4 linked regions of the Homo sapiens genome follow. The protein of the gene in region 3 interacts with the protein of the main gene of each other region in a biochemical or structural test. Each region holds a gene or a part of one and is shown on either strand. Other genes may lie near its edges. The genes, in order: SOX2, WWP2, POU5F1 and NR0B1.

What was found.
Region 1: the proteins of POU5F1 (region 3) and SOX2 form a complex in vitro, tested with the Homo sapiens proteins (one study listed by BioGRID).
Region 2: of the proteins of POU5F1 (region 3) and WWP2, one has a biochemical effect on the other in vitro, tested with the Homo sapiens proteins (2 studies listed by BioGRID and IntAct, with this or other methods).
Region 4: the proteins of POU5F1 (region 3) and NR0B1 form a complex in vitro, tested with the Homo sapiens proteins (one study listed by BioGRID).

What each region holds. Positions count from the first base shown.
Region 1 is NC_000003.12:181,707,199-181,714,961, forward strand, and holds SOX2 (transcription factor SOX-2), read left to right. Parts: upstream 1-4,726; 5' UTR 4,727-5,162; coding exon 5,163-6,116; 3' UTR 6,117-7,238; downstream 7,239-7,763. UniProt on the Homo sapiens protein: Transcription factor that forms a trimeric complex with OCT4 on DNA and controls the expression of a number of genes involved in embryonic development such as YES1, FGF4, UTF1 and ZFP206. Binds to the proximal enhancer region of NANOG.
Region 2 is NC_000016.10:69,793,321-69,800,357, reverse strand, and holds part of WWP2 (NEDD4-like E3 ubiquitin-protein ligase WWP2), read right to left. Parts: intron 1,677-7,037; coding exon 1,529-1,676; intron 1,185-1,528; coding exon 1,063-1,184; intron 1-1,062. UniProt on the Homo sapiens protein: E3 ubiquitin-protein ligase which accepts ubiquitin from an E2 ubiquitin-conjugating enzyme in the form of a thioester and then directly transfers the ubiquitin to targeted substrates.
Region 3 is NC_000006.12:31,167,678-31,174,638, reverse strand, and holds the start of POU5F1 (POU domain, class 5, transcription factor 1), read left to right. Parts: upstream 1-3,956; 5' UTR 3,957-4,018; coding exon 4,019-4,423; intron 4,424-6,961. UniProt on the Homo sapiens protein: Transcription factor that binds to the octamer motif (5'-ATTTGCAT-3'). Forms a trimeric complex with SOX2 or SOX15 on DNA and controls the expression of a number of genes involved in embryonic development such as YES1, FGF4, UTF1 and ZFP206.
Region 4 is NC_000023.11:30,303,705-30,306,426, reverse strand, and holds the end of NR0B1 (nuclear receptor subfamily 0 group B member 1), read left to right. Parts: intron 1-1,603; coding exon 1,604-1,848; 3' UTR 1,849-2,221; downstream 2,222-2,722. UniProt on the Homo sapiens protein: Nuclear receptor that lacks a DNA-binding domain and acts as a corepressor that inhibits the transcriptional activity of other nuclear receptors through heterodimeric interactions.

The sequences.
Region 1 (7,763 bases), on a different chromosome or scaffold from region 3:
ATATCCTAACCTTTTCCAGCTTATTTCTTGTTAATTGTTTTTGGAAAGTATGCAATGCTCTTTTAAGGGAAAAAAAATCTTCTAATGCACTTATTTACCTTCATTTATATGTGTTTGTTTCTGAAATGAAGAATCAAGCTTTGGTCATTCCGGAAGTCGTGTAGCATGCTCCAATTTGAAGTGACTGAGATCTTTTGTGACTTACAGAGGAGAAGGAAATGTTTTAAAAATTGGCTTATGCCAGTCTCCTTACTCTGAAATTCTCAATTTTCTTGTATTACAGGATAAATATAAATATCATCTCACCAAATTGTACCAGCATTGTCCTAAACATTTAAATTTTCCTTTATTTTTGGCCTTTAAAATTAGAAAATTTTCTCCAGTTGCTGCACTTAGCTTTTTAATTTTGTTTTCTTTTCACTTACCAGACTACTGGTATGATCTCTTTCACTGCAGTATGATTGCTGCTATGGTCACTTTTAGAGGAGATTGTGGGAAGGTTAGGATTTGGAGGAAACATGACAAAAAAGGGAAGAAAAAAAAAAACCTTCATTTGACCACATCTGGCTGCTTGTATATTTAACCAGTTCTAGAATTAGAAAACCTTTCTGTACATTTTCTTCTATTTTTCTCACTTTTTTCCTTACATAATGAAATTAAAACTTTTGGAGCCTACAGTTGACATTTTTCAGAAAATTGAGTTATCAAGGCAGTAATTATTTCACGGGGAGATAAAACTCTCATAGCCCTAACTGTCAAATAGGGCCCTTTTCAGATTTTAATTACAAAATAAAATTAGTCTGCTCTTCCTCAGAATGGTTTGTGAGTGGTTAAACAGAGCTTTCCCCCAATACTGGTGGTCGTCAAACTCTGCTAATTAGCAATGCTGAGAAATTCCAGTTAACAAGGACATTCTCCAAGACTCTGCAGGTTCCCTGCCGTTTGCCTTCATTTCCATAAGAAGATTAAGAGAGGAGGGGAACACACTCAAATGCAGATGCAGAAAAGAAGCGTTTTTTAACAAGCATCATAATAGTAAGATGCTTGGCTAGTTCTCACCTAATTACTGCAAGTTAAACCTCTATTTGACACTAAGAAGAAAAAATAAGTCTACAGTCCCCTGTCTCCACAAAATTGTTAGTTGGTTTCAGATATAATACTTGAGGAGTGCTGAGGAGACTTTAGGAGAGAAAAATCAATGTGCAAGATTTTGAAATAAAATTGAGTTACACTTAACAGTTAAGGCCTTTTGGCTAGGGCCTATAATAGAACAAAATAAAATCAGAATATTCCAGGAGTCATGCATTTTTGTTACTAACTACTAATCTTGCTCTAAAAGTATGTAGCTTTTTGTTGCCCGTGGAAGGGAAGTGTTACACTCCCTTTAGATTAAGCACTTTCAATTTTCGTAAATTGTGCCAATGGCAACATTTTAGATTCTCAGAGGATGAAGCATCCTGTTCCAAGTCTTTTTTGATTGTCTAGTAGTCAATGGTATATTGTTGTTAGTACTGTAGCTGTCTATTACAAACCTAAAACAGTGTTGCTTCTGTCATCTATTGGAATCGTTATAGTTATTATATTTAGGGATCAGTGATGGTGCTGGATTGAAATAGAGTGGGCAGTGATCTGATTTTTTAAAATGCATATGTTCTAAAAAATCTAATGAGAAAATGTTCCTGCTATCACCATCTTCTTTAATCTTATTTTCATAGCACATTATTATGCATAATCGCCAGCCACAGTTAGTTTATTGTCTCGATAAGTACAGCAGGCTTAATTAAAATAAAGCTGTAAATAAATGCAACCAATGATAACACAATTGTAACGTAATTCCATAGCTTATTAATGTGATAAAAGCAATTAATAAAAGACCTAGCCAACCCCTTTAACCTCTTAAATACATTATTATAGAGTTCATGCACAAACACATGCATCTGAGAATGTGTAAAAGTTGTTATATATCCTCCCAAGGAAAAAAATTGTGCCTTGAGAGAAAGGCAACGAGATTTAAAAGATTTGTGTCTATAACCGTCTGTTATTAGTATTTATTTTAACAAATATACACCACCCTTATCCACACCAATTCCTTGGTTGTTTCTTCAAACAATTATCCACAAGCTTTTTAAAGTTTTTAGAATAATGCTATTAAGCAGACCGATGCATACACAATCATAAAGTGAATTCTTGGTCTGCCCTTTGTGGCGTCTGGACAATCATAATTCATTCACATGTTGAATCTCATAATTTGTACCTATTTTTTCCCATGGTCTAACCTCCCACTTACCTCGAGGTTGTATGTATATTTCTAAGTTAGGCAAATTAAATCTGATTCTTATGATTTGGTTCCGCAGCTTATAAGATATGTTAACTTTTCTTTTGTTTAGATTATGTATAATTAGTCTGATCTTCCATCCCCCTCTTTTTTTTTTTTTTACTTTAATTATTTTCAAATACCTTCTTTTAAAGGTAAAAGCAATAGTCTTGGAAAAGCGAATCTACCAGCAGGGGGCGCACCAGCCACATCCCTGAAACCAGCCGCGCTGAAAAGCCGGTGGCCGCCTTCTCTTCCCCAGATCTTCTCAACCTTTTCTCTTTCCTAATCTCCAGGTCCGTGTTTACCTTAATATTACACCTGGATTAAACAGAAAACAGTGCTGTATTTTGAAGAGCGCCGAATATGTATGCATTTTGAGAAACCCAATCTCACCCTTTCCGGGTTCCCAAGAACTAAAACAAGCCATAACTTGAGAGAAAAAGGAGAACCTTCGGGGGGCAGGAAGGTTGATTGGAAATAACTTAAGGAAAGTCTGCAGAATTCTTTTTTTTACAACTTTTCTGAGTTTCCAGTGGGTATATTTAGTGTGAGTTTGACAGTAACAGGCTAGGGAGGGCAGAGATTGGAGAAATTGGGGGTCGGGGGAGTGATTATGGGAAGAAGGTTAGTAAGGAACAAAACAATGCACCGTTTTGTAAAGATAATAAATGGAACGTGGCTGGTAGATACTATTCAGTACATTTTCTTAGGGTGAGTAAGGGTAGACCAGGGGAGGAGGGGGCGGAGAGAGTGTTACAGAAGAAAGAAAATAAGTAACCCTGATGGTTTAAGCCCTTTATAAAAAAGAAATGGCATCAGGTTTTTTTTTCTTTATTCCCCCCCACCCCACCCTTTGTAGTCAAGTGCATTTTAGCCACAAAGATCCCAACAAGAGAGTGGAAGGAAACTTAGACGAGGCTTTGTTTGACTCCGTGTAGCGACAACAAGAGAAACAAAACTACCTATTTGTAACGGACGTGCTGCCATTGCCCTCCGCATTGAGCGCCTACCTATTGAAATCTTTACGTCGGGACAATGGGAGAGCGGCTAAAATTACCCTCTTGGGTCCTGGGCGGGCAAGATTCCTGAGCCCCTACCCCCGCCCCCATCTCATCCTCCTCTAACCCGGGCCTTGCTGGGCTCCCCCTTCCCCAGTCCCGGCCGCCTTCTCCCAGTGTGCGCTGCCTGCACCTGTGCCTGGAGAGCATCGACCCCGCCTCCCAGGCCTTGAGCCCCTTTGCGGCGCAGCCCCAGCCTTGCGCGGCCTGGGCTTTGCGGCCACCACAATGGAAATCTACGGGGAAAATGCCAGGGCTGGTTCTGCTGGAGTCCTGGGAACTCTGCGTGGGAGGGAGTTTGTGACTGCGGCCCAAAAGCCACCTCCATACAGTGCCGTGGGATGCCAGGAAGTTGAAATCACCCTCCCCCATCGCCTGCACTTTTGAGCGCCCTTCCGTCTGTGTCTTTCCCCAGCCCCCATTTGAAAGCCGCACGACCGAAACCCTTCTTACGGGGAGGCATGGGATGGGAATGGGGAGTGGGGGCAGACAGTAGAAGCATCCCCTTTGCTACGGTTGAATGAAGACAGTCTAGTGGGAGATGTGGCTGGGGCTAAGAGGAAGAGCTGCAGTTTCCTGGGCCAAAGAGCTGAGTTGGACAGGGAGATGGCAGCTTACCAAGGCCTGCTGGTTCTCAGCTCTAGAGTCTGCCTTATGGTCCGAGCAGGATTTATTTTTAAGAACAGAGCAAGTTACGTGGAAGCAAGGAAGGTTTTGAGGACAGAGGTTTGGGTCTCCTAACTTCTAGTCGGGACTGTGAGAAGGGCGTGAGAGAGTGTTGGCACCTGTAAGGTAAGAGAGGAGAGCGGAAGAGCGCAGTACGGGAGCGGCACCAGAGGGGCTGGAGTTGGGGGGGAGTGCTGTGGATGAGCGGGAGAACAATGACACACCAACTCCTGCACTGGCTGTTTCCAGAAATACGAGTTGGACAGCCGCCCTGAGCCACCCACTGTGCCCTGCCCCACCCCCGCACCTTAGCTGCTTCCCGCGTCCCATCCTCATTTAAGTACCCTGCACCAAAAAGTAAATCAATATTAAGTTTAAAGAAAAAAAAACCCACGTAGTCTTAGTGCTGTTTACCCACTTCCTTCGAAAAGGCGTGTGGTGTGACCTGTTGCTGCGAGAGGGGATACAAAGGTTTCTCAGTGGCTGGCAGGCTGGCTCTGGGAGCCTCCTCCCCCTCCTCGCCTGCCCCCTCCTCCCCCGGCCTCCCCCGCGCGGCCGGCGGCGCGGGAGGCCCCGCCCCCTTTCATGCAAAACCCGGCAGCGAGGCTGGGCTCGAGTGGAGGAGCCGCCGCGCGCTGATTGGTCGCTAGAAACCCATTTATTCCCTGACAGCCCCCGTCACATGGATGGTTGTCTATTAACTTGTTCAAAAAAGTATCAGGAGTTGTCAAGGCAGAGAAGAGAGTGTTTGCAAAAGGGGGAAAGTAGTTTGCTGCCTCTTTAAGACTAGGACTGAGAGAAAGAAGAGGAGAGAGAAAGAAAGGGAGAGAAGTTTGAGCCCCAGGCTTAAGCCTTTCCAAAAAATAATAATAACAATCATCGGCGGCGGCAGGATCGGCCAGAGGAGGAGGGAAGCGCTTTTTTTGATCCTGATTCCAGTTTGCCTCTCTCTTTTTTTCCCCCAAATTATTCTTCGCCTGATTTTCCTCGCGGAGCCCTGCGCTCCCGACACCCCCGCCCGCCTCCCCTCCTCCTCTCCCCCCGCCCGCGGGCCCCCCAAAGTCCCGGCCGGGCCGAGGGTCGGCGGCCGCCGGCGGGCCGGGCCCGCGCACAGCGCCCGCATGTACAACATGATGGAGACGGAGCTGAAGCCGCCGGGCCCGCAGCAAACTTCGGGGGGCGGCGGCGGCAACTCCACCGCGGCGGCGGCCGGCGGCAACCAGAAAAACAGCCCGGACCGCGTCAAGCGGCCCATGAATGCCTTCATGGTGTGGTCCCGCGGGCAGCGGCGCAAGATGGCCCAGGAGAACCCCAAGATGCACAACTCGGAGATCAGCAAGCGCCTGGGCGCCGAGTGGAAACTTTTGTCGGAGACGGAGAAGCGGCCGTTCATCGACGAGGCTAAGCGGCTGCGAGCGCTGCACATGAAGGAGCACCCGGATTATAAATACCGGCCCCGGCGGAAAACCAAGACGCTCATGAAGAAGGATAAGTACACGCTGCCCGGCGGGCTGCTGGCCCCCGGCGGCAATAGCATGGCGAGCGGGGTCGGGGTGGGCGCCGGCCTGGGCGCGGGCGTGAACCAGCGCATGGACAGTTACGCGCACATGAACGGCTGGAGCAACGGCAGCTACAGCATGATGCAGGACCAGCTGGGCTACCCGCAGCACCCGGGCCTCAATGCGCACGGCGCAGCGCAGATGCAGCCCATGCACCGCTACGACGTGAGCGCCCTGCAGTACAACTCCATGACCAGCTCGCAGACCTACATGAACGGCTCGCCCACCTACAGCATGTCCTACTCGCAGCAGGGCACCCCTGGCATGGCTCTTGGCTCCATGGGTTCGGTGGTCAAGTCCGAGGCCAGCTCCAGCCCCCCTGTGGTTACCTCTTCCTCCCACTCCAGGGCGCCCTGCCAGGCCGGGGACCTCCGGGACATGATCAGCATGTATCTCCCCGGCGCCGAGGTGCCGGAACCCGCCGCCCCCAGCAGACTTCACATGTCCCAGCACTACCAGAGCGGCCCGGTGCCCGGCACGGCCATTAACGGCACACTGCCCCTCTCACACATGTGAGGGCCGGACAGCGAACTGGAGGGGGGAGAAATTTTCAAAGAAAAACGAGGGAAATGGGAGGGGTGCAAAAGAGGAGAGTAAGAAACAGCATGGAGAAAACCCGGTACGCTCAAAAAGAAAAAGGAAAAAAAAAAATCCCATCACCCACAGCAAATGACAGCTGCAAAAGAGAACACCAATCCCATCCACACTCACGCAAAAACCGCGATGCCGACAAGAAAACTTTTATGAGAGAGATCCTGGACTTCTTTTTGGGGGACTATTTTTGTACAGAGAAAACCTGGGGAGGGTGGGGAGGGCGGGGGAATGGACCTTGTATAGATCTGGAGGAAAGAAAGCTACGAAAAACTTTTTAAAAGTTCTAGTGGTACGGTAGGAGCTTTGCAGGAAGTTTGCAAAAGTCTTTACCAATAATATTTAGAGCTAGTCTCCAAGCGACGAAAAAAATGTTTTAATATTTGCAAGCAACTTTTGTACAGTATTTATCGAGATAAACATGGCAATCAAAATGTCCATTGTTTATAAGCTGAGAATTTGCCAATATTTTTCAAGGAGAGGCTTCTTGCTGAATTTTGATTCTGCAGCTGAAATTTAGGACAGTTGCAAACGTGAAAAGAAGAAAATTATTCAAATTTGGACATTTTAATTGTTTAAAAATTGTACAAAAGGAAAAAATTAGAATAAGTACTGGCGAACCATCTCTGTGGTCTTGTTTAAAAAGGGCAAAAGTTTTAGACTGTACTAAATTTTATAACTTACTGTTAAAAGCAAAAATGGCCATGCAGGTTGACACCGTTGGTAATTTATAATAGCTTTTGTTCGATCCCAACTTTCCATTTTGTTCAGATAAAAAAAACCATGAAATTACTGTGTTTGAAATATTTTCTTATGGTTTGTAATATTTCTGTAAATTTATTGTGATATTTTAAGGTTTTCCCCCCTTTATTTTCCGTAGTTGTATTTTAAAAGATTCGGCTCTGTATTATTTGAATCAGTCTGCCGAGAATCCATGTATATATTTGAACTAATATCATCCTTATAACAGGTACATTTTCAACTTAAGTTTTTACTCCATTATGCACAGTTTGAGATAAATAAATTTTTGAAATATGGACACTGAAATTATTCTTGAGTCTTTCATTTATTTGGATAACACTGTGATTATACATAACTTTTCGGGGAATTATAATACTGTGCTCAGCCAAGAAAGCAAAATACCAAAAACCTTGGTATTACTAGTCCAGCATCATGTGCTAATGTTAACTGCAAAAAAGAAACGGCTGGATGATTAATAAGTACTGGAAAAATTGAAATTTCTGTCATTTCTAAAATAGAAACTAGAGACATATATTGTAAATCCGCCCCCTCCTTTTCTAAGCAGCATGAATAAGCATGATGGGGACCTATACTTAAAACTGATTTATGCCACTTGTTGCCAGAAAGGATTCAATTCTGAAATTTTTCATGTAGTTTAGCAGATGGGATATTGAGCCAAATCAGAACCAGGTTGGCTGGTTTTGTTTTCATTTTCTTCACAGCACAATGGCCCTTTGAAACCTGGCTATAGAGAAAAATGATGCTTCTTGTATCAGAATAATTGCAAACTAGACATGCAAAGTGTTCATCTGCTGGGTGGGTGTTTGGATT
Region 2 (7,037 bases), on a different chromosome or scaffold from region 3:
TTCTCCCTGATGATCAAATTACAAAAGGCTGGCTAGGGTTTGGGAAAATAAACACCAATTCAGAAGACAAAGCAATCAGGGAGTTCTCTGCAGGATTAAAGTGGAGGCACATCTCTGGTTTTAAACAATTCCTCGGGCCAGTGTGGGTTCAGCACATCTCTATGTGCCCAGCCGAAAAGAAAAGACCAGAGGAGGCTCAAAGACCTTTCAAGTGGCCCATCGCTTAAAAGGACAGGCTTGGAGAGAAAAGAAAGACTCTTAAATCATGTAACACGCTCGCTGGGACGCAACTCTCCCCGCCCCCACCTCTCTCTTAAGCTACATCCACTTTCAGAAAATACTTTCCAGATATCAAGAGAAAAAGGAGCCTTTCTTTCCATGCCATTCATTCGCCACATATGGTACTGCTCTGAATAGAGGCCTTATGAAGGAGGGTCCAATACCACCGCCATGGGCCATGCCACTGACCACAAACAGCAATAAATAGATGAGGATTTATATGTCCGTGACGTAGAGGCACGTTGGCTAATTCAGATGGCGCGTCCATCACGTTCCAACATCCAGTAAATGTTTACTGAGTGCCGAGTAAGCACAGGGCACTATTTGTAATACTATCCCAGACACACACGTGCACACATGCACACAGGCATGCACACACACACATATACGTATACACACAGCTCCTTTGTTCTGTTTTAGGGCTGAGGCTAGAAAAGCAATGATTTAGGCTAGAGGTATTTGACAGTTTCATTCAACATATCACACATCTCCTGCAACGGGAAGAGGAGCAGAGGCAGACAGAAAGTTTCCAGTCCCTAAGGAAGGATAAAGGGCAACACACCACTGCATCACATTACTAGAGGCCCTGGACAAAGAGGGCTAAACTCTGTAGTGGAGGCAGAGAGGAGCCCTCAGCCTTCCCAAAACTCCAAAGACAGCATCCAAGGAGAACAGAGGTACTGCAGCCCCTAGTCCTGGGGGAAATTGCAATACCAGGTTGATCTGCCAGGTCCTCCCATCCCCACCCAAGAATCACGTCGGCACCCCCTTCATCATACGTACTTTTGCCCCCATTGTTCTTCAAGACGTTGGAGAGGTTGACAGATGCGGTGCCTAGCAGTTCATTTCTCAAGGTATGGCAGCTCCAGACCTTTAAATCTAAATGACTCTGTGCCGTGACATTCCTGAAAAACAAATACCTGATTCATTACATCCAAGCAGATCATTCCTATAACTTAGAAGAAAACATTTAAACTAAACTGCTGACATCTTGGGGAGGGGGAACCAAAACAGGCAGACACCCACATATATCCTTTCCCCTCTCAAAGCTGACCCTGTAACCCTCTAGATAATAATGAACGCTCTATGAGCTCAATGGTGTAGGAACACCTAAAAAGAGTCACCTTGGGTACCATAGGTAGAAAAAGTCGGAGGTGCCACAGGGAATCTGTACCTCCCACAACCCCCTCGGAGCACCCTCTCTCTTTCCCCATCTTGCTGCGTTCAAAAAGAAGGGGCTTTCTCTTACAAAATGATGATCTCATTCCAGAGAAGCTCAGAGCTCCCAATGCGCTTCCCAGTCTTCTTGGTCTCACTGGGGAGTCCATCCACCGCCACCTCCACGTAGGAGTTAATTCGAGGTTGACGATTATGCACCTTGGGCTTTGCGGACACCACTGGGAGAGAAAGAAAGAAAAAGTCAAAGATGAGTCCCAGGGCTCCCAGATGCCCCCCTGTGGCAGATGTTCCGGCTCTTTTTAGTTATTGCTTTAAAAAATAAATCAATACATTTTGTTTTGTCTTGATTCTAAAAACTTTTTAAAGAAATGTGAGTACACACACCAAAAAAAATATGAAGTGTAAAAAAAAAAAAAAAATCCCTAACCTGAAACCACTGGGATAACTGCCAGTGATCATCATCACCAATTTATCGTTGGTAAATTGCCTTCCAGATTTTCATCTTTTATTTATTCAATTCTTTAAAAATTCTTCACCCCCATAAGTCACTCTTAAATGACTGCAATACAAGCCCATAATAGGTATATGTTAACTATTCTTTCATTGTCGAATAGACTGCTTGCAATTGTTCGCTCTGGGGAAATTACCGTGAACATATACATCTGCATGCCTTTCTTGAGTATTCCTCCAAAGGATACGAACACTTTTTAAAGTTCTTAAAACTGCCCATTCCTTTCCAAGAAAGGTAAACCCATGTAGCCTCCCATCAGTGCTACAGGAGAATATTCATTTTACCAGACATCACAGAGTGCTAAGGGATATGCTTGTTCACTTTTTGCAAATCCATGGGTTAAAAACGCATGGTGTAAAGACAACAGCTAAGGCCGGGCGTGGCGGCTCATGCCTGGAATCCCAGCACTTTGGGAGGCCAAGGTGGGAGGGCTGCTTCAGCCCAGGAGTTCAAGACCAGCCTGGGAACATAACAAAATTTATAATTTTTTTTTTTTTTCTGAGATAGAGTTTGGCTCTTGTTGCCCAGGCTGGAGTGTAATGCCACAATCTCGGCTCACTGCAACCTCTGCCTCCCAGGTTAAGCAATTCTCCTGCCTTAGCCTCCTGAGTAGCTGGGATTACAGGCGCCCGCCACCGTGCCTGGCTAATTTTTGTATTTTTAGTAGAGACAGGGTTTCACCATGTTGGCCAGGCTGGTCTCAAACTCCTGACCTCAGATGATCTGCCTACCTTGGCCTCCCAAAGTGCTGGGATTACAGGCGTGAGCCACCGCACCTGGCCAATTTATAAATTTTAACTGAAATAAATAAAGATAATATTTAAGATTTTATGAGTACTTATTAAAGACCCTCTGCCATGTGCATACATTTTCTAACTGAATCCTCACAACAAACCCATGAGGCAGGGAATATATCATCACCCCATTTTACCCAGGAGAAAACAGGCTTGAGAGGCAAGGTCACTCTCCCACTCTACATAGCCAGGGAGCTACAAGCCAGACTGTGCACCCGGCCGGTCTGATTCCACATCATGCTGCATATTATTATTGAACTTTACTTATTTGTTCTATTGCTGTTCTTCGATTACCAGCAAGGTTGAATATTTTTGCCATGTGTCGTTAGTCATCTACATTTCTTCTTCCGCTCATAGCCTTCATGTGGCAACAATTCTGATGTTCGTTTGGGACCAGCAAGCCAAAGACTCATGGAGTACAAAGCTACACAAGCATCACACCGAGGAGCTAGACAGACATCCTAGTGTATATTACCCCTGGTGGAAACGCCAGGTCGCTAGGGTAAAACACATCTAGACGTCTCCCATCCTGCCCCAAATCAGAGATACAACTGATGCTCCCTTGCCTGTAATGGCAAGTCTATCCTAGCCTGAGCTTCCCTGTTTGAGTATAAGCAAATCCCTCCCTCCCAGACTCTTCTGAAAGGTGACAGTCCTACAATGGTGTCTACAACTTGGCAAAGGCCAAATTCACCTTCAGATTTTTTATAGCAGTAACTATCTTCCTCTGGCCCCAAAGGAACAGAAGGGAGGAAGACAACAGATAAAAAATCAGCTGTGGCTAAGATTCAGAAGCGACAAGGGAACAGTACTAGGGACAAAGGTTTGTGGTACTGAGGCATGGCCCAGGGTAGAAAAATGAGGTGCAGTGATTTACACACGGACCAAGGTTAACTGAGGCCACCTGGTGGTAAGAGCATGAATCTACATGCCTTTAAAAAATAGGGACTACAAATGGTGCATTACTTAGGACGTTTGACTTTACAGGGGTGCGAAAGCGATATGCATTCAGTAAAAACTGTATTTTAAATTTTGAATTTTGGTCTTTTCGCAGAATAGTCATATGCGGTACTACTGGGCAGCGGCAGTGAGCCGCAACACCAGTCAGCCACGTGATCACAGGGGCAAACAATTGATACTCTGCCGTGTACCCCTTCACCAGATGATCTTGCCTAGCTGCGGGATATCGAAGTGTCCTGAGCACATTTAAGGTAGGCTAGGCTAAGCTATGATGCTCGGCAGATTAGGAGTATCAGATGCATTTTCAACTTGCGATATGTTCAACTTATGATGGGTTTTTCAGGACGTAACCCCACTGTAAGTTGAGAAGTATCTGCGCTCATACACATACACACTTTTTCCTGAAACTCTGAGAGTAAGCTCTAGACATTGTGCCCCTTTACTCCTAAATATTTCTGGGTGTATTTCCCAACAAACACATTTTTTAACATAACCAATAGCACAATTATCAAAATCAGGACATTTAACTTTTTATAATACTAATATTTAATTTACAGACTTTATTCGTATTTTGCCAATTGTCCTATCGATGCCCATCATCGCAAAAAAAAAAAGAAAGAAAAAAAAATTTGTTCTGGTCCAGGCCCCAATCTAGGATCATACTGGCATTTAGTACTCTTATTTTGAAGCAGGGCATGGTGGCTCACGCCTGTAATCCCAGCTCTTTGGGAGGCCGAGGCAGGCAGATCACTTGAGGCCAGGAGTTTGAGACCAGCCTGGGCAACATGGCTAAACCCTGTCTCTACCAAAAATACAAAAACTAGCTGGGCGTGGTGGGGCACAACAGTAGTCCCAGCTACTCAGGAGGCTGAGGCATGAGAACTGTTTGAACCCAGGAGGCGGAGGCTACAGTGAGCTGAGACCACACTCCAGCCTGGGTGATGGAGAGAGACTCTCACAAAAAAAAAAAAAAAAAAAAAAAAAACCTCCTATTTTTAAGTTTCCAATCTATAGAAAAATTGAAATAGAACAATAAATACTGTATACTCTTCACCAATTGTTATCATTTTGCCACATTTGCTTTCTGTTCTATGTGTCTATAGCATCACTACCCAAGAGAACTTCCATGATGACGAAAATGTTCCACATCTGTGCTGCCCAATACATTGCCATGAGACACATGTGGCTATTGACACTTGAAATATGGCTAGTGCAAATAAGGATATGATTTTTAAATGTTATATAATTGTAATTTAAGTGTAAACAGTTCTATGTGGCTACAGTGACTATTCTATTGGACACCAAAGGTTATAGATAAATGCCATCTATGTCTCTGTGTATGTGTGTGTGTGTGTGTGTGTGTGTGTGTGTGTGTATCCGCATTTTTTTTCCTAGGTAAAACCATTAAAAAGTAAGTTGTAGACCGGCTGGAGTGCAGTGGCACGATCACGGCTCACTGCAGCCTCGACCTACCTGGCTGAAGCGATCCTCCCACCTCAGCTTCCTGAGTAGCTGGGACTACCAGTGCGCAACACCACGCCTGGCTAACTTTTTAATTTTTTTTGTAGAGACGGGATTTCACCCCATTGGCCAGGCTGATCTCGAACTCCTGGGCTCAAGGAATCCACCTGGACTCAAGCGATCTACCCGCCAGAGCTTTCCAAAATGCTGGGATTACAAACATGAGCTACTGCCCAGTCCCCAGACATATTTTTAAAGCCATTTTTCCCCCAATTCAGTACCTAATCAATATATACAAATTGCCTGTGGCTACTATCTCCTTAATCTTTTAAAATCTAGAACATCCTCCCTTCTTTTCCATGGCAATGATTTTTGTTTGTTTAACTTTTTGGTTTTTTTCTTTTATAATCCCAGCAGCTTTGCCAAGGCAACAATGATTTTTAAAGACTTCCACCAGCTGTTTTAAAGAATGCAGCAAATTCTACATTTTTCTAATTGTGAAACTGCCTTTGCAAAATTATGACAGAGAAATCGGACATAGTTGATTCCATCTTACTTCTGATTTCTAGGCTGTCCTTGGTCATTCCTGGGCATGGGCCAAGCTAATTTTGGGAGAAATTTAGTTTATAGTTTCTTTTTTTTTTTGAGACCGGGTCTCCCTCTGCTGCCCAGGCTGGAGTGCAGTGGTGCAATCTCATCTCGCTGCAGCCTCCACCTCTGGGGCTCAAGCGATCTTCCCACCTCAGCCTCTCAAGTAGCTGGGACTACAGGTGTGAGCCACCATGCCTGGCTCATATTTGTATTTTTTGTAGAGACAGGGTTTCCATGTTGCCCAGGCTGGTCTCAAACTTTAAGCCTGAGCTCAAAGTCATCCACCCGCCTCAGCCTCCTAAAGTACTGGGATTACAGGCATGAGCCACCACACCCAGCCTATAGTTTAATCTTAAAGCAAGGATAGCTGGGCATGGTGGCTTATGCCTGTAATCCCAGCACTTTGGGAGGCTAAGGGAGGTAGATCACTTGAGACCAGGAGTTTGAAACCAGCCTGGCCAACTTGGTGAAACCCCGTCTCTACTACAAGTACAAAACTTAGCCGGGCGTGGTGGCGCACGCCTGTAGTTCCAGCTATTCAGGAGGCTAAGACACGAGAATCGCTTGAACCCAGGAGGCAGAAAGTGCAGTAAGCTGAGATTGTCCAACGCACTCCAGCCTGGGTAACAGAGCAAGACCCTGTCTCAAAAAAAAAAAAAAAAAAAAAAAAAGCAAGGATAATAACAGCCCTTCCCAAAACGAAACCACCTTTGTAAAACTAATCAACAGCCACAAGGTTAGGATTATGGGAGGGGCTTGAATTCTAATAAGAGGTAGGTATAGTTTCTATAATCCCTTACTGCTCAGGAGTCATGAAGCCAGAGGTCACAAGATTTGTGACTTCCCCAATTGCTCCCATAGATAACATCGCTATTGCAGAACCTAAGGTTGGTCTTTTGAGATTTTTTCTTTCTGGCAATCTACTGACTTTGCCTGGGCCCGTGACTTGACTCGTGAAACAAATTATCCTGTGGCCCCACCCAGAAGTGGACTCAGCACAGGACCATTTTCCACACCTCTATAATCTCATCCCCAACCAATAAGCAGCACCCATTCCCTAGTCCCCTACCTGTCAAATTGTCTATAAAAACCCTAATCTCTGAGCCTCCAGGAAGACTGATCTGAGTGATAACTCTGTCTCCCATATGGCCTGTTTTGTGTCAATTAAACTCTTTCTCTAATGCAATGCTACAGTCCCAGTGAATTTATTTATTTATTATTATTATTTTTTTAGATGGAGTCTTGCTCTGTCACCCAGGCTG
Region 3 (6,961 bases):
AGGTGGCAGGGTACAGGGAGGCCTATGCCAACTTCTCATTGAACACCACTCCCAGCTTTCCTACCCCCATTTCTCTTCACAGGTGTGCAGAGAAGTCTACATTCCCATGTCAAGTAAGGGGGGTGGGTAGATGGGAGGGCATATGAGAGCGGGGCAGCAATTTTATGTCTGAGTTGGAAGGAAGTTTAGAGTTCATTGAGTCCAAATCCTCTTTACTAGGTGAGGAAACTGAGGCACAGGAGGGGGAGGTGCCATTAGCCAGGGAGTCAGAGCCAGGACTTAGAACCTGGTCCATGCCTCCTAGTTTGTTCCTGACCAATCCTCCCAGCTCACCCACTCCTTTTGCTCTCACCTCTGACTCCCTACAGGCTACAGCTAGAGAGTTGACTCCTCTATTTGAGGTAAGAGTGTCTGGATTTGGGATAAGGTGACCTCAGTTTGCAGGGCTCATGGGGGAGATCAGAGGGTCCTTTGTTGAGAAGAGGGGACTTGGTCCACAGTGAGCAAAGGAATTTGTCTAAATTGCTATTAAGGGAGATCATCTCCCAAGGTGGGCCAAGCCTGAACCCTCAGCCCTCCGTTTCTTCCCTTTCTTTTGCCTTCAGATTGACAGGCCTCGGAAGTCAAAATAAGTGGTTTCCTAGACCGGGTCGAGAGCAAGTCTCTATTGGTCCCAACTGAGTTTTTTCAGCTGGTTTTTCAACCAAACAGCACCTCATCTCCCAGTGAGGGGAAGGGAAGGCTGGGCTGAGAGCAGCAAGGCTGCTCATCTCACCTCTCCCCACCCAGCCATGCCAGCCGCCTCACCTGGTGGGGAGAGGTGGGCCTCACCTGGGTCCCCTGGCAGTGCTCTGTGAAGGGTCTTGACATTGCACTGTAATAATAAAGGTGTGTGTGAAGTATCTTTTTATGGTGACTTTCTAAAACCCAGGGAATCATGGGACCAGTTCTGATGACTCAGCCTGGCTTCCAGTCTCCTCCAGGCCCAACGGTGGCCCCCAGCACTGGTTGGGGCCTGGGAGAGCTGGCCTTGGCTGAAGTGAAGCCACCTACCCTTCAGGCATAACAGGACAGTGAGAAGGAAGGAAAGCCTGCCTCAACCTCCCATCAGCCCTGAGCACCCCAGAAGGGGGCCGGCTAGGAGTCTAGGCATGCAGGAGGCTGACCCCTGACTGGGCTCATATCCAGCCACAAGGCAGCCAGGGATCCAGGCACCCACCCCTTGTCTGCGTCCCTCTCGGGAATGGGCCTCTTGCCCAGGCCAGAAATACACCACCTACAGTACAAATTATAATCTAAAAACAAGAGGGTGGTGTTGAGTGGGGAAATTGGGGAAGGTGTTTTAGGAGCCACTAGGAAAATGGGCAGCAGGGACTCTCTGGACTGGCTTGGGAAGAGCGCTTTTGGGGAACCTGGAGGATGGCAAGCTGAGAAACACTGGTGTGGAGATTCCAGCCAAATCCCAGGCCTGCCCCTCCCCCTCCTCTGAGAGGCCGTCTTCTTGGCAGACAGCAGAGAGATGCATGACAAAGGTGCCGTGATGGTTCTGTCCTGGGGATTGAGATGGCTGGGGAGGGGCCTCCTCCTGTTCCGAAGCATGTTCCTCCCACCCCCACCAGGCCCCATAATCTACCTGCCTTTTGGGCAGTTAAAGGCCGAGAAGTGAACACAGCTGCAACCCCACTGCCTTGTAGACCTTCCGGCAGACCTGTGGCAGGTATTGAAATGCACGCATACAATTAGGCTCAAAAAGTCTACACAGACAGGAGATGGGCACACGAACAGAGGCAACATAAGAGTGGGGGAAAAGTCTCAAAAGACTCACGGATGCCACCAAGATGAAGACAGCTGGCCACGGGACACCCATCCCCTTAGAAGGCAGATAGAGCCACTGACCCCAGCAGACAAGCCCAGGCAGGGCTGAGCCTGGAGCCTGCAATGAGAAGCCTTACTTAAGTCGACAGAGGTCAGCGTGCCCAGTCCAGACCTGGCCTTCTGGCCTTCGAAGCTGTGGGGAGCCCTGGCCCAGAGCCCCCTCTGGAGCCCCCAGACTTACCCCAGGCCCTCCACTGAGATCAAGTTTTGGGAGCAGACAGACAAACATCATCCCTCACAGACAGGCATTCCGTTGGCTATTCTCTTGCAAACAGAATCAAGCACTAGACCAGCAGCATGAGCCTCAGGATACTCAGGCCAGGCCCAGAAAAACAGACCCTGAAGGGGAGCTTAGGGCAGCCTTCCTGCACGCCTCCACAAATCACTCTCCACCTCCTCTGCGTCTTTCTGCCAGCCAGCCCCACTAAACAAAGCACATCCCTCAATCTGCCAGGCTCGGGGAGGGACGCACGATGAAGCTGGACGCCTGAGTCCCCCAGAGGAAGGAGGAACTAGATACCTAGGTCCCTGTGGGGGGCCCTTGGTGCCCGTCTGAGGCTCAGTCTTTGAGGGGATTGCAGAGGGGGGTTGCTGGAGCTCCTTTTAGCGTCTCTGAAGGGGATTCTGTGTGAGGGGATTGGGACTGGGGGGTTGGGGAGCAGGAAGCAGTCCCCAGGGGAGCCATCCAGGCCCATTCAAGGGTTGAGCACTTGTTTAGGGTTAGAGCTGCCCCCTCTGGGGACCGGGATTGTCCAGCCAAGGCCATTGTCCTGCCCCCTTCCCCCAGTCCCTCCCAGGCTTCTTTGAACCTGAAGTCAGATATTTTTTCTCCACACCCCCCACCCCCTGGTTTTCCCCACCCAGGGCCTAGGGCTGGAGGCCTGGGCCAGGGAGGTGGGGGAGGGAGAACGGGGCCTACCGTGGTATTAGATGTCTGAGTTTTGGTTGAGAGGGGAGCAAGGAACCTGATGTGCAGGTTCCATAGTGGAGGGGGCCCAAAGCGGGTGTCTTATCACTCTGTTTCAGCAAAGGTTGGGAAACTGAGGCCCAGTCAGTCCAAAGTCTGGTCCCTTGAAGGGGAAGTAGGGACCAACCCCTTAGTCTGTTAGATGAGGAGAGTCTGGAGTCTGATTCTGGAAGACGGAGGGGTGGGGGGATGGGGGGGTGGGGGGATATAGCACGGAGGCCTTGTCTGGCAGTCTACTCTTGAAGATGGGGTGAAATTTGGCAGGCTGGGCAGATGGTGCCAGGCACCCAGGCTGCGGGGTGGCTGGATTTGGCCAGTATCGGGATGGGAATGCCTAGGATTCTGGATGGATCGGGGGAAGGCATAAGGGAGCAGCTGGCCATTGTGCTTATGGCTGTTGATGCATTGAGGGATAGCGCCACACACACATTCAATAAATTTGAGGAGCTGAGAGGGTGACTGGCCCCTGAAGGCACAGTGCCAGAGGTCTGTGGAGAGGGGGTCAAGCACCTGGGTTCCTGAAGAACATGGAGGTGTGGGAGTGATTCCAGACAGCTGGGATGTGCAGAGCCTGAGAGAGTGCCAGGGAGCGGGTTGGGAGTTGAAAGTTGGGTGTGGTGGCTCACGCCTTTAATCATGACACTGGGCGGCAGAGGCGGGAGGATTTCTTGAGGACAGGAATTCAAGACCAGCCTGGGTAACATAGCAAGGCCCCATCTCTACTAAAAATAAAAAAACTAACAGGGCACAGTGGTCCAAGCCTGTAGTCCCAGCCACTTAGGAGGCTGGAGCAGAAGGATTGCTTTGGCCCAGTAGATCGAGGCTACATTGAGCCATCATTGTACTCCACTGCACTCCAGTCTGGGCAACAAAGTGAGACCCTGTCTTAAAAAATAAAAATAAAAAAAGTTTCTGTGGGGGACCTGCACTGAGGTCCTGGAGGGGCGCCAGTTGTGTCTCCCGGTTTTCCCCTTCCACAGACACCATTGCCACCACCATTAGGCAAACATCCTTCGCCTCAGTTTCTCCCCCCACCTCCCTCTCCTCCACCCATCCAGGGGGCGGGGCCAGAGGTCAAGGCTAGTGGGTGGGACTGGGGAGGGAGAGAGGGGTTGAGTAGTCCCTTCGCAAGCCCTCATTTCACCAGGCCCCCGGCTTGGGGCGCCTTCCTTCCCCATGGCGGGACACCTGGCTTCGGATTTCGCCTTCTCGCCCCCTCCAGGTGGTGGAGGTGATGGGCCAGGGGGGCCGGAGCCGGGCTGGGTTGATCCTCGGACCTGGCTAAGCTTCCAAGGCCCTCCTGGAGGGCCAGGAATCGGGCCGGGGGTTGGGCCAGGCTCTGAGGTGTGGGGGATTCCCCCATGCCCCCCGCCGTATGAGTTCTGTGGGGGGATGGCGTACTGTGGGCCCCAGGTTGGAGTGGGGCTAGTGCCCCAAGGCGGCTTGGAGACCTCTCAGCCTGAGGGCGAAGCAGGAGTCGGGGTGGAGAGCAACTCCGATGGGGCCTCCCCGGAGCCCTGCACCGTCACCCCTGGTGCCGTGAAGCTGGAGAAGGAGAAGCTGGAGCAAAACCCGGAGGAGGCAAGTGAGCTTCGACGGGGTTGGGGTGTGGGGAGGTGGTCATGACAGGGCAGCCTGATGGGGAAGTGGTCACCTGCAGCTGCCCAGACCTGGCACCCAGGAGAGGAGCAGGCAGGGTCAGCTGCCCTGGCCAGGGAGGGGTGTGTATCAACTGCTGGCAGCCCTGGCAGGCAGGGGCCAGGTGGGAAGTGGAAGCTGGATTTCGAAGAGACAACTGCCGGTGAGGGCAGAGCAGCCTGGGAGAGTCGGAAGCTGGCCCAGGCTGGCCTTTGCTCTGGCCCAGCCCTTGTCAGGGTCTCTCACATCTCCTAGGCCTGCCCAGGGTCTGGTCACTCATTACTGGCCCAGCACCAGACCCAGCTTGGGGTTGGTTTGAGCCCCTTTTCCCACCCTTAGTCCTGCTTGAAAATTTGACCCTTATCAGACCCAAGATTTTGGCCTTAGGGTTAAGCATAGCCTGAGGGTAAAAACAGTGCTCATTCCAGGATTATTGTTCCTGAAAGTCTAGGGTGTGACTCGTTTCTGATAGGATCTCCTGTTTGGGCTGTGTGTGTGCGCGTTGTGAGCTGGGTTTACCTCCAGTCAAGTATAGGGCTTGTCTTCCCCGGATCTCTGCCTCAGGCCAATGACTGGCCACTGTGTTAAGGTGCACACCCTGGCACCCCTTGTAGAAAGCTGGATTTTGATTGACTTCAGCCTCAGTTCCAAAGTTGTAAACAAGAAAAATGGTGAGAGATTTCTCCAGGCCATTTGCAAATATAGAGCTGCTGCGGGATTGAAGGCATCCAGCCCTGCTGAGGACTATTAAAGATGTATCTTCCAGTCCTTCAAGGCGACAAGTGTAAGCAATTAGAGATTAAATACTAAGCCTTGAGACCTCACAGAAAGGTGTGACTGGTTTCTGGAGTGACCGAGAAGCCCCAACCTCTTCGCAGGAGGTCACTGCTGAGCCTTGAATGATAATGGCTGGCAATTGTGGTCCACTTCCTAAGTGCCTGGCTGTGTGCTCCGTTTATACATCATTATCTCATTAACCAGCACAAAATCTCCTAGGGGGAGGTATTATTATCCTATTTAACGGGTTTTAACTGCTAAATGATGAAGCGAGGATTTGGACCAGTGTTTATTCCAAAACCCCAAAACAGAATTTGGAAAATCCAAGATAGCAGAGGGCATTTATCAGTTTGAGTTATTGGCTGAGCAGAAGTTGGGGATGAAAACAGCCTATTTGAAATTGATATGATCAAGCACCATTGAAACACTTCCTTGAGGCTTCAGAACTACAAAAAGGCCTTGTTTTTTTCTCACTAGCTGTGCACCTCTGTCTGCCGGCAGCCTCATATGGCATGCCCCAGGGCTCAGTCCTTCAACCTCTGCTCTATCTACCCTTCCTTCCTCTCACCCACCCTCAAGGCTTAAATGCCATTTAGACACCAGATGACTACCGCGTTTTCTGTCTCTTGTGATGGCTCCCTGAACTGCTCCACCCTGATCACCCAGTTGCTCAAGGCCAAACCCAGTCATCCTCAGTTTCTTTCATGTCCTACATCCTATCCTTAAGAAACATCCTGAATCAATCACAACCTAACCCTGGCCTCAGCCACCATCATCTCTGCTGGGATTACCGCAGTAGCTTCTCAAATTATACTGCTTCCTCCCTACTGTCTGTGGCCAACACGTCAACTAGAGTCAGTGTTTTAAAAGGTGTGGCCAGGCACTTTGGGAGGCCGAGGCAGGCGAATCACCTGAGGTCGGGAGTTCGAGTCCAGCCTGACCAACATGGCGAAACCCCATCTCTACTAAAAATACAAAATTAGCTGGGCGTGGTGACGCATGCCTGTAATCTCAGCTACTCAGGAAGCTGAGGCAGGAGAATCGCTTGAACCTGGGAGATGGAGGTTGCGGTGAGCCGAGATCGCGCCAGTGCACTCCAGCCTAGGCAACAAAAGCGAAACTCTCAAAAAAAAAAAAAAAAAAGGTGAGGCTAGGTGCGGTGGTTCACACCTGTAATCCCAGCACTTTGGGAGGCCAAGGTGGACAGATCACTTGAGGTCTCCTGACCAGCCTGGCCAACATGGTGAAACCCCATATCTACTAAAAATACAAAAATTAGCCGGGCATGGTGGTGGGTGCCTGTAGTCCCAGCTACTCAGGCGGCTGAGGCAGAATAGCTTGAACCCAGAAGGCGGAGATTGCAGTGAGCCAAGATCACGCCACAGCACTCCAGCCTGGGCGATAGAACGAGATTCCGTCTTGGTGGGGAGAAAAAGGGTGAGAGATCATTTCGCTTGGACTAAAACAAAGTCACTATGTCTGCAACAGGATCTACCTAGCCACCAGACCAGCTTTGGGCTCTGGAAGGCCCACTTCAGGGCCTTGCCACATTAGACTCTTGTCCTTTGCTCAAACAATCACCTTCTCTGTCTTTAAAAGTGTCACCCTCCTCCATAATCTCCTTCCCTCCTTTACCCTACTCCTATAGACTGCTTTATTTTTTTTTTAATTTTTGAGATGGAGTCTCACTCTGTCCCTCAGGCT
Region 4 (2,722 bases), on a different chromosome or scaffold from region 3:
GTATGTCCCATATATAAATTTAAATACATTATATATATAGGTTCAAACTTAAGGAGATATAAAACTGTGGAGTCCATTTGCATTTTCTCTTCCCTGACCTTATTTTGAAGGCCAGTTTGTGTGTCTCTGTGTGGGGGGGAACCACTTGGGTGGGGAGAAGGTGGAGGGGTATATTGTGAACACAGAGAAAAGTAATGTGGCATACACAAGATGAAGTTTTCACAAGCCATGAATCTAGACCTAGAGAAGCTTCAGATTTCTGGTGGAGTTTCATGCAAGCCTCTTCCTACTTTCATCGATGGAATTCAAACACAACAAAATTGGGTCTTAAGCCTGGATCTCAAGCTGTAGATAGAAGGGGATGATAATGTGTGGACTAGAGTAATCAGAACTGGAATATGGATTAAAATGGTTGCTTTATTTTTGTTCTTATTTATGAGATTTGATATTCGCCCATAATAGGAGTGCCTCTCGCTTATTACCATTATTATTTTTTTAAAGAACACTGGTTCTGCTGCTCTGTGATGATTGGCATGGTGCTTTTAAAATACTTTTCTGTTGAATTTTTTAGGAAAAGGGAAGGAAAATGATTGCAATCATCATTAACATCATTTAAACCAAGTGGTCAACTGCTAATTACTTGAATACAAGTTAAAGAACTTTGCAACGATATTATCATCATGGAAGATCAAAGGACCTTCAAAAGCAGCCTCCTCTTATTACTTTCCTTATAAAAACTTACATCCACTTAAACTTTCCTGCATTTATTTCTTTCACTTTTACTTCGGTATCACACTATACTGCAAAAGGTCATGTGTTTTCTATTACAAAAGTTATTCTTGAATCATGGTACAATTCGTGATGTTTTCATGTTTACTTTTTAAACTTTTAATGACTATAAGAATTTTCAAAAACTTCTTACTTTAATATTTTTGAAAAGAGCCTTTTTGAACACTCATTAGAATCATTCTTTTATTTTTTTCAAAATCTTCCCCAATACAGAAATCATGGTGCAATGAGCTAAGTGGCCAGTGTTAGCTTTCAAATTATTCGGGCCTCTAGACTAATATTGGCCTGCAGGCAAATAGGTAAAATGAAACTGTGCGTCAAAGTTTGTGGCTGTGAAGTTTACCACCATTGGCTGAACGATCAGTGTAATGATGGAAAGTTCAAAGAAGAATGGTAAAAACATTTGTCTCATGGCAACACTTCTTGTTTATCATGGCTTGTTTCTCATAGGTAAAGTGCCCACCTCTTGAAATATCATGAACTTCTTCATATTTGCATAGAAAGTGAACTGGAGTGATGATTCATTAAACCGTATTCTACTGTCATATTAAATTGTGTGCGTTTGTTGGCTCATGGCCAGTGTATTTGCAAACGTGTGCATAGAAACATAGTAAATATTAAGTAAGATCACATGATGTTTCATTCTTGGACACGTTGCTTCTGAAAACGTAGACTGGTTTGGCCTTTTACCCTTTTAACCGGGAAGCTTTGGGTCTTGTTTAATTGGGATGAAACAGAAATGGCTATTTTTAAAAAGCTAGCAAAGGACTCTGTGGTGAGCTGTTTTATAACAAAGAGATTTTTCTCCCTCCAGACGTGCCGGGCCTGCAGTGCGTGAAGTACATTCAGGGACTCCAGTGGGGAACTCAGCAAATACTCAGTGAACACACCAGGATGACGCACCAAGGGCCCCATGACAGATTCATCGAACTTAATAGTACCCTTTTCCTGCTGAGATTCATCAATGCCAATGTCATTGCTGAACTGTTCTTCAGGCCCATCATCGGCACAGTCAGCATGGATGATATGATGCTGGAAATGCTCTGTACAAAGATATAAAGTCATGTGGGCCACACAAGTGCAGTAGTGCAGTTCACCATGAGGGAAGAATAAAGAGCTGTGGGCAAAAGAGTGTAAAATATTTTAAAATAAACTTTCTTAATATTTTTACATGCAGAGTATTTTTGTATTCAATTAAAGAAATAATTTTATTCCAGACAGTCACAAATTTCTCTGTTCCATAGTTAAAGAAGACATTTGCCAACAGGTAGCATAGCTCTGTACATCTTTTAAAAAAAAAATAGCAGGGTACTAGTATAATAAGCTATTTTCACAAGTGTAGCAATTTCATGGAACCTGCTCAAATCAAATTTGTACATATTGTTATAATAAATTTTAAGGTCTTAACTATTAACTTGATTGAAAAAAGCTTCAGCAGGGTTTAAGTAAGGCCTCAAAAACTATTAAAACCTAGCCAACATAAGCAAAAAGTATCTTTGGAAGTAACAACATGACATTGAATGTAATTATGTGCCAGTATCAGTGGGAGGTCACTTTGCTCTATCTTCATTTCCACTTCCCTCAGCTGTATGGAAGACTGCGTTTGCATCCAACTGGAGTCAAGAAGCAATCTGTAATTATAAAGACATGCAGAAGTGAAAGAGGAGATTTTCTGTTTTATTGGGGGATCTTTTTGGTACACAGTTATGGATTTAAAGATCCACAAGGAACATACATTCTATAATGAGGGGTTATAGTTCCAGAAAGCTCAACATCATTATAAAACCACTAATTACACTTCATCTTTTAGATACATTACGTTTGTAACTGGTATATTGAACAACATGGCATGAAATCATAAAGCAACTTTATTGTTATCTCCTGCTGCCCCTTTAATTATAATCCATAGAACTAATTTTTCTTTGTGTCCAGA